Linked DNA regions of Homo sapiens: regions 2 and 3 are each linked to region 1. The links come from fine-mapping of genetic effects on gene expression. A gene starts in region 1. Each other region holds a variant in brackets. All regions are shown on one strand. Distances are from middle to middle. Region 1 holds the start of ZNF786 (zinc finger protein 786). Region 2 overlaps ZNF398 (zinc finger protein 398). Region 3 overlaps ZNF786 (zinc finger protein 786).

What was found. PIP is the estimated chance that this variant, and not a neighbour inherited with it, causes the effect.
Region 2: its variant is the best candidate, but not a certain one, in a credible set for the expression of ZNF786 in monocytes (Schmiedel 2018, PIP 0.77).
Region 3: its variant is the best candidate, but not a certain one, in a credible set for the expression of ZNF786 in whole blood (INTERVAL, PIP 0.54).

What each region holds. Positions count from the first base shown.
Region 1 is chr7:149,089,246-149,092,090 of GRCh38, forward strand. It overlaps ZNF786 (zinc finger protein 786), which reads right to left and starts at 1,473. Exons shown (of 4, transcript NM_152411.4): 1 at 1,378-1,473. The coding sequence starts at 1,395. RefSeq lists silencers at 1,415-1,714, 1,835-2,324.
Region 2 is chr7:149,154,261-149,157,105 of GRCh38, forward strand. ZNF398 (zinc finger protein 398) reads left to right here. Exons shown (of 6, transcript NM_170686.3): 2 at 1-80. Among named protein-coding and RNA genes, the nearest start is that of ZNF398, 8.2 kb to the left of the region's middle. RefSeq lists enhancers at 1,873-2,440, 2,441-2,845. The variant C/A (reference allele first, on the strand shown) is at 1,082.
Region 3 is chr7:149,068,289-149,070,788 of GRCh38, forward strand. It overlaps ZNF786 (zinc finger protein 786), which reads right to left. Exons shown (of 4, transcript NM_152411.4): 4 at 1,353-2,500. The coding sequence ends at 2,135. Among named protein-coding and RNA genes, the nearest start is that of ZNF786, 21 kb to the right of the region's middle. The variant A/ATTTTTT (reference allele first, on the strand shown) is at 1,187.

The DNA of each region.
Region 1 (2,845 bases):
CCGGCCCTGTTGATCATATATGTAGCTAATTTATTTTAATTTTGTATAGTGTTCCACCGTCTGAATGTCACAAGTTTGTTTGTTTTTGAGATAGAGTCTCGCTCTGTCGCCCAGGCTGGAGTGCAGTGGCGCCATCTCAGTTCGCTGCAACCTCCACCTCCCGAGTTCAAGCAATTCTCCCTACCTCAGCCTCCCGAGGAGCTGGGATTACAGGCGTCCGCCACCACACTCAGCTAATTTTCGTATTTTTTAGTAGAGACAGTTTTTCGCCATGTTGGCCAGGCTGGTCTTGAACTCCTGACGTCAAGTGATCTGCCCACCTCGGCCTCTCAAAGTGCTGGGATTACAGGCGTAAACCACGGCGCCTGGCCTGAATGTCACAAGTTTTAAAATCCATTCTTTTACTCATTAATAATTTATTTTCAGGTCTGTGATTTGGCTGTTTATATCCTTTCCCCATATATATAGGTATGTATATATTTTTGGAGACGGAGTTTCGCTCTTGTTGCCCAGGCTGGAGTGCAATGGTGCAGTCTCGGCTCACTGCAACCTCCGTCTCCCGGGTTCAAACAATTCTCCTGCCTGAGCCTCCCGAGTAGCTGGGATTACAGGCGCCCGCCATCATGCCAGGCTAATTTTTTGTATTTTTAGTAGAGTTGGGGTTTCACCATGTTGGCCAGGCTGGTCTCGAACTCCCGACCTCACGTGATCCACCCGCCTCGGCCTCCCAAAGTGCTGGGATTACAGGCGTGAGCCACCGCGCCCGGCCTAATTCATTTAATAATCAGCAAAAATCCTCAACATTAAAGTTTACAAGATAAAAATACCCTCTAAACCTCGATTTTAAGAAACCACTAACTTAATTTTTTGTATCCTCTTCTACTCTTCCCAACGTATCATCTTACACTCAACCCAAATCACGCTAGACAATAAATTCTGACATTGAAGCCCCCGCCAAACACCATTTCAACCATTCGGAATCTTAAACTTTTTGGAACAGTTGTTCTGATTTCGGTGACTATGATGTAAAACTGGTTGACCTGTAACATCCACCTCTGGCCCCAAACCTTTCTATCCTTTCCACCGTCCGCTCCCCGTCCGCCCGGCATCCTCGCCCAGGCTCCGCCCCGCTCCTAGGTCGGCCTCGGTCCACGCTCGGCTTTGTCCAGGGGTTTGGCCACGGACAAGCCGCGGGAGCGGAGGCCACCTGCTCACCGCAGGGCCCGGAATCCACATCCCCAGCAGAAGCAGCCTGCAGACTCCGTCCTACCCGTGCACCGCGCGCACTCACGGGGACCCCAGGACACGGGCGAGCCCGGAACCCGAGGACCCACCACGACCCCGAAACCGGGCGTCCAAACAGGCTAGCCCGCTTACCCGAGGCGGCTCCGCCATGGTCCCCGCGGTCCCGCCCGGCCCTGGCAAACCCGACCGTCTCCGGCGGCTCCGCAGGAACCTGCCCTGCTGCGCACTGACTCCCCTCCGCTCCGCCCCAACCCGACTCCCACGCACAGCCCGGGTGGCCCCCAAACGCAGCGCCGGCCGGGCGCGGTGCATGCTGGGACCCGGCGCCCGGCCGCGGCTGCCGCTCAGTCCTACAGCGCCTCCTGCGGGAGGAAGAAGCGGCGCTGCCTGAGCGTCGGTCCTCAGAGGAGGGACCCAGGGGCCCGGGCGCCCTCAGAGCAGGCCGCAGCACGCCGGTCTTTGAGGGACCCTCGGATTCCCGGGATCTGGGGAGGGAAGCGGTCAGAGACAAGCTGAGGAGCTGGCCGGAGGGGAAACGGAGGGGCAGGACATGGAGAGATCAGGGACAGGGACAGGGAGAGATCAGGGACAGGGACAGGGAGACGCGCTCCACAGAAACCCAGACTGAGAGGCAGCGAGAGGGGAACCTCCGGTGCGGTTCCTCCCAAAGCCGCCCCCGAGACAGGCTTCGTCTGTGAGGGGGTCCCGGGAATCCAGCGAGGCCGGAAAGTGGGTGGGGGGCGCGCGCTGCCCGCGGTGGCCCGGGGCATCCGTCCCGCCGGGGGCGCGGAGGCCGTGGGGGCCCCATGCTTGTCCCGCCGGGGACGCGGAGGCGGGGTCCGCCCACCAGGTCCGGTCGCCGTGGGTCTAGAGCCCTCCGGGCTCCCCGGGCGGCCACGCTCCTTCCTTAGCAGAGAACGGCCTTGGGCAGAGACCCCATGCGGAAGCCACCCCGGCCTCAGGGCCGCCTGCAGGGACTCAGGGTGGCCCAAGGCTGCGGTCGGGCACCCCGGGCCCCGGCAGGAGACAGAGACAGAGTAGGAGGAGAAGACGGAGGAGGCCATGACACAGGGCGTGAGAAACACGAGAACGCAAGAACAGGGGAGAGGTGGGGAAACCAGGAAGAGACAGAAAGGAGAGAGGGCGAGGAAGGGGGTGGCGATTGTCTCCAGAAAATCAACCTCGCATTCTGTCTTAGTCATGTCTTAGGTGTCAGGCTGAAGTAGCAAAGGAAAAGTGTGTAGTTTGGAGAGGATGTGCATAAGAAATAAAATAGTCCCTGCGTAGGCTGAGGAGCATATACGCATCTGTGTTTGCCACAGAATCGTGAAATGTACATGCACCTTACTGTTTAACGTTTTTTATTTTTACAACTGTTATACAGTACAATTTTTTTTTTTTGGAGACAAAGTCTCACTCTTGTCACCCAGGCTGGAGTGCTGTGGCGCAATCTCGGCTCACTGCAACCTCTGTCTCCTGGATTCAAGCAATTCTCCTGCCTCAGCCTCCCGAGTAGCTGGGATTACAGGCATTTGCCACCACGCCCGGCTAATTTTTGTATTTTTAGTAGAGACGAGGTTTCACCATGTTGGTCAGGCTG
Region 2 (2,845 bases), 65 kb after region 1:
AGAACTTGGAGAACCTGCTGCGCAACAGGAACTTCTGGATCCTGCGGCTCCCTCCAGGTATTAAGGGAGATATCCCAAAGGTAATACCTTCATTTCTAGATGTAAAGTGGTACCACTAGAACTTACATTAGTAGTAGTCTTGGTCATTCAGTTACTTAGATTTTTTATTTCCTTTTAAAGTTTCTTAAAATATCTCAGTCTGAAAGAATCATGAAGGTGTTTTATGTTTGTCTATTTGGGAAACATTTTATGTTCAATTTAGTACCCATTTAGAGTGCCAAGATTCAGATTGGAAACCTCTTGCTGGACCAAAGTTGGCTATCTGGTAGATGGATTTTTTTTCTCTTTTGGTTTCTCCTACCCATTACCCATGAGCCGCTTCTTTCTTCGTTAACTTGTGTGCCAGATTCTTGGGGAGGAGACTACATAAATATTCTTTTAAATCAGTCAATTTGAGGCTGGGCGCGGTGGCTCATCCCAGCACTTTGGGAGGCTGAGATGGGCAGATACCTGAGGTCAGGAGTTTGAGACCATCCTGGCCAACGTGAGGAAACCCTGTCTCTACTAAAAATACAAAAATTAGCCGGGTGTGGTAGCACATGCCTATAATCCTAGCCACTCGGGAGGCTGAGGCTGGAGAATAGCTTGAACCCAGGAGTTGGAGGTTGCAGTGAGTCGAGATCATGCCACTGCATGCCAGGCTGGGCAACAAGAGCAAAACTCCTTCTAAAAAAAAAAAAAAAAGGCCTGGCGAGATGACTCACACCTGTAATCCCAGCATTTTGGGAGGCTGAGGCAGGTGGATCTCCTGAGGTCAGGAGTTCAAGACCAGCCTGGCCAACATGGTGAAACCCCGTCTCTACTTAAAATACAAAAATTGGCCAGGTGTGGTGGCTCACACCTGTAAACCCAGCACTTTGGGAGGCCGAGAAAGGCAGATCACAAGTTCAGGAGTTCAAGACTGGCCTGGCCAACAAGGCGAAACCCCATCTCTATTAAACATACAAAAATTAGCTGGGCTTGGTGGTGGGCGCCTTTAATCCCAGCTACTTGGGAAGCTGAGGCAGGAGAATCGCTTGAA[C/A]CCGGGAGACAGAGGTTGCAGTGAGCTGAGATTGCGCCACTGCACTCCAGCCTGGGCAACAGAGTGAGACTCCGTCTCCAACAACGACAAAAAAGAAGAATCACCTGGTAGGCTTTTAAAATTTTGGTGAGCATCACATCCAGATTCTGACCTAATAGGTCCAGGATGGAGCTTAAGCATGAATAATTTTTTAAAAACCTCCATAGATGATTCTAATATATGACTAGGGTTGTGAATCACTGATGTGTAGGGCATTTAAGACCAAGGAAAGGAATTTGGATTTTTAACTAAGGTGTAATGAGGAGAAATTGGAGGGTTTGAAGCAGAGGAATTATATTTGGTTATATATATATATATATATATATATTTTTTTTTTTTTTTTTTTTTTAATTTTTTTTTTTTTGAGATGGAGTCTCACTCTGTTGCCCAGGCTGGAGTGCAGTGGCGCCATCTCGGCTCACTGCAAGCTCTGCCTCCCGGGTTCACGCCATTCTCCTGCCTCAGCCTCCTGAGTAGCTGGGACTACAGGCGTCCGTCACCATGCCCAGCTAATTTTTTGTATTTTTAGTAGAGACGGGGTTTCACCATGTTAGCCAGGATGGTCTTGATCTCCTGACCTCGTGATCCGCTCGCCTTGGCCTCCCAAAGTGCTGGGATTATAGGCATGAGCCACCGCGCCCGGCCAGTTTTATATATTGAAAGAATCCCTTTGGCTGCTTTGTGGAGGATGGATCGTAGGGGAAGAACTGAAGAAGGGAGGAAATACTAAGGCAGGGAGGGATGCAAGTGGCTTGGATGAGGGTAGCAGTTGTAGAGATGGAGAGAAGTGGACAGATGCAGGATGTTTGGTGGTAGAACTGACAATAAGAGTTACTGATGGGAAGGCAGGGTGCATTGGCTCACGCCTGTAATCCCACCACTTTGGGAGGTTGAGGCGGGCGGATCATGAGGTCAGGAGTTTGAGACCAGCCTGGCCAACATGATGAAACCCCGTCTCTACTAAAAATACAAAAAAATTAGCTGAGCGTGGTGGTGGGCACCTGTAATCCCAGCTACTTGGGAGGCTGAGGCAGGAGAATCGCTTGAAGTTGAGGGGGAGGTTGCAGTGAGCCGAGATCACGCCACTGCACTCCAGACCAGGCAACAGGGCGAGACTCCATCTCAAAAAAAAAAAAAAAAAAAAAAAGAGTTACTGATGGGAATTAGGAAATAAGGCATTAAGAACAGTAATTGTAGGCCAGGCGCAGTGGCTCACGCCTGTAATCCCAGCACTTTGGGAGGCCAAGGCAGGTGGATCACCTGAGGTGAGGAGTTTGAGACCAGCCTGACCAACATGGAGAAACCCCATCTCTACTAAATATACAAAAAAATTAGCTGGGCCTGGTGGCGCATACCCGTAATCCCAGCTACTTGGGAGGCTGAGGCAGGAGAATCGCTTGAACCCAGAAGGCGGAGATTGCGGTGAGGGGAGATTGTACCACTGAACTCCAGCCTGGGCAACAAGAGCGAAACTCCATTTCAAAAAAAAAAAAAAGAATAATTATAAATTTACTGTGTGGTAATTTAGTTAGAACTTACTATTCTAAGTGTTCTACTTATTTTAAGGCATATGAGTCTCAGAAGAACCCAACTTGCCCGAGGTCACATAGTTAATATAAATAACAAAGTTGTGTTTTAACTAGGTTGGCTCCAGAGCAGATGCTCTTAACCACGTTAGGTTTACTGTCTCAGGCTTTCGGCTTGAAGAACTGGGTAGATGGTGTT
Region 3 (2,500 bases), 21 kb before region 1:
AAGTATAGGCCGGGCACGGTGGCTCACACCTATAATCCCAGCACTTTGGGAGGCTGAGGTGGGTAGATCACCTGAGGTCAGGAGTTCAAGACCAGCCTGGCCCACATTTTATATTTTTTGTATTTTTAGTCTCTACTAAAAATACAAAAATAGGCATGGTGGCACGTGATGGCGTGCGCCTTTAGTCCCAGCTACTCAGGAGGTTGAGAAAGAAGGATCACTTGAGCTTGGGAGGTGGAGGATACAGCGAGCTAAGATCATGGCACTGTACTCCAGGCTGGCTGACAGAGACTCCAAAAAAAAAAAAAAAAAGAAAAGAAAGGCCGGCACCGTGGCTCATGCCTGTAATCCCAGCACTTTGGGAGGCTGAGGCGGGCGGATCACGAGGTCAAGAGATCGAGACCATCCTGGCTAACACGGTGAAACTCTGTCTCTACTAAAAATACAAAAAATTAGCTGGGCGTGGTGGCGGGCGCCTGTGGTCCCAGCTACTTGGGAGCCTGAGGCAGGAGAATGGCATGAACCCGGAAGGTGGAGCTTGCGGTGAGCCGAGATCATGCCACTGCACCCCAGCCTGGGCGACAGAGCAAGACTCCATCTCAAAGAAAAAAAAAAAGGAATTTATAATTATATATTATTCTGTATCTTTATATATTAATTATATATTCTATAATTTTTTTGAGATGGAGTCTTGCTCTGTCTCCCAAGTTGGAATGCAGTGGTGCAATCCCAGCTCAATGCAACCTCCACCTCTGGGGTTCAAGCGATTCTCCTGCCTCAGCCTCCGGCGTAGCCAAGACTACAGGTGCATGCCACCATGCCCGGCTAATTTTTGTACTTTTTGGTAGAGATGGTGTTTCACCATGTTGGCCAGTCTGGTCTTGAACTCCTGACCTCAAGTGATCCTCCTGCCTTGACCTCCCAAAGTAATGGGATTATAGGTATGAGCCACCACGCCAGGCTATATTCTATAAATTCTAAAGAGAATGAAAAGGACTTGCCAAGCTTCCTTTGGGAGATACTAAATTTGTTTTTTTTTTTTTTTTGAGACGGAGTCTCGCTCTGTCACCCAGGCTGGAGTGCAGTGGCTTGATCTTGGCTCACTGCAAGCTCCGCCTCCTGGGCTCACACCATTCTCCTGCCTCAGCCTCCTGGGACTACAGGTGCCTGCCACCACACCCGGCTA[A/ATTTTTT]TTTTTTTTTTTTTTTTGTATTTTTAGTAGAGACAGGGTTTCACTGTGTTTGCCAGGATGGTCTCGATCTCCTGACCTTGTGATCCACCCGCCTCAGCCTCCCAAAGTGCTGGGATTACAGGCGTGAGCCACCACCCCTGGCCCAAATTTTTTTTTTTTTTTTTTTGAGACAGTGTCATACTATGTCATCCATACTGGAGTGCAGTGGCACCATCATTGCTCACTGCAGCCTTGACCTCCCTGGGCTCAGGCGATCCTCCCACCTCAGCTTCAGGAGTAGCTGGGACTACTGGTGTGTACCACCATGCCTGGCTAATTTTTGTATTTTTAGTAGAGACAGGGTTTTGCCATGTTGCCCAAGCTGGTCTCAAACTCCTTGGCTCGTGATCCTCCTGCCACGGCCTCCCAAGTGCTGGGATTACAGGCATGAACCACTGTGCCTGGCCTAAATTTACTTTTATAACAATTACTTTTTAAAATGTCAGAACTTCCTTATAATTACACACATATATTTTTATACAAATGCACAAAGGTAATCACATCTTATCTGGATTTCTGTGTGCACCTTTTCTTAAAAATGTTAACAATCACATATAACCTCGTAGAAATTGTTTTCGTTTGCAGATGCCTCCTTTTTCATAAAATTATGTCCTTGTTTTATAATGCTGTCTTTTCCAATATAGCTGGGATCACGCCACTGCACTCCAGCCTGGGTGACAGAGCAAAACTCCATCTTGGAAAAAAAAAAAAAAAAGAAAGAAATATAATTGGTGATGCTTCTGAAGAGAAAATCCTTTGTGGTTCTTCATATTCCTAACTTGCATGACACTCTTGCTCAAAGAAGGATACCTGCTCCTAAAACCCGTCTACCAGCGGGTCTGGCTACTGTTGCTGTGGATTCCTGGGCAATACCAATCCTGCTCAACGCTTTGGATGTCCCACTCTGCCTCAACTCCAATCGGCCTCTATCATTGCAAACAGTTGGCTGAGCCTTTTCTTAATGTCCAGTTCATTTGGAGCAGGACAGGATTTTGTGTGTACTCTGATGTGCTCCGCAAGCTTAGACTTGTAAATGAAGCCCTTCCCACAATCGCCACAGGCAAAGGGCCTCTCGGGCCTGTGGATGCGCTGGTGCCTCAGCATGTGTCCCCTTTCCCGGAAGTTCTTGTCACACTCAGGGCAGTGAAAAGGCCTCTCCCCTGTGTGCAGGCCCTGATGGCTGAGCAGCTGCGCCTTCAGGCGGAAACTCTTGTCACACTTGGGACACTGAAAAGGCTTCTCTCCCGTGTGCGTTCTGATGTGCTCGATGAGCTT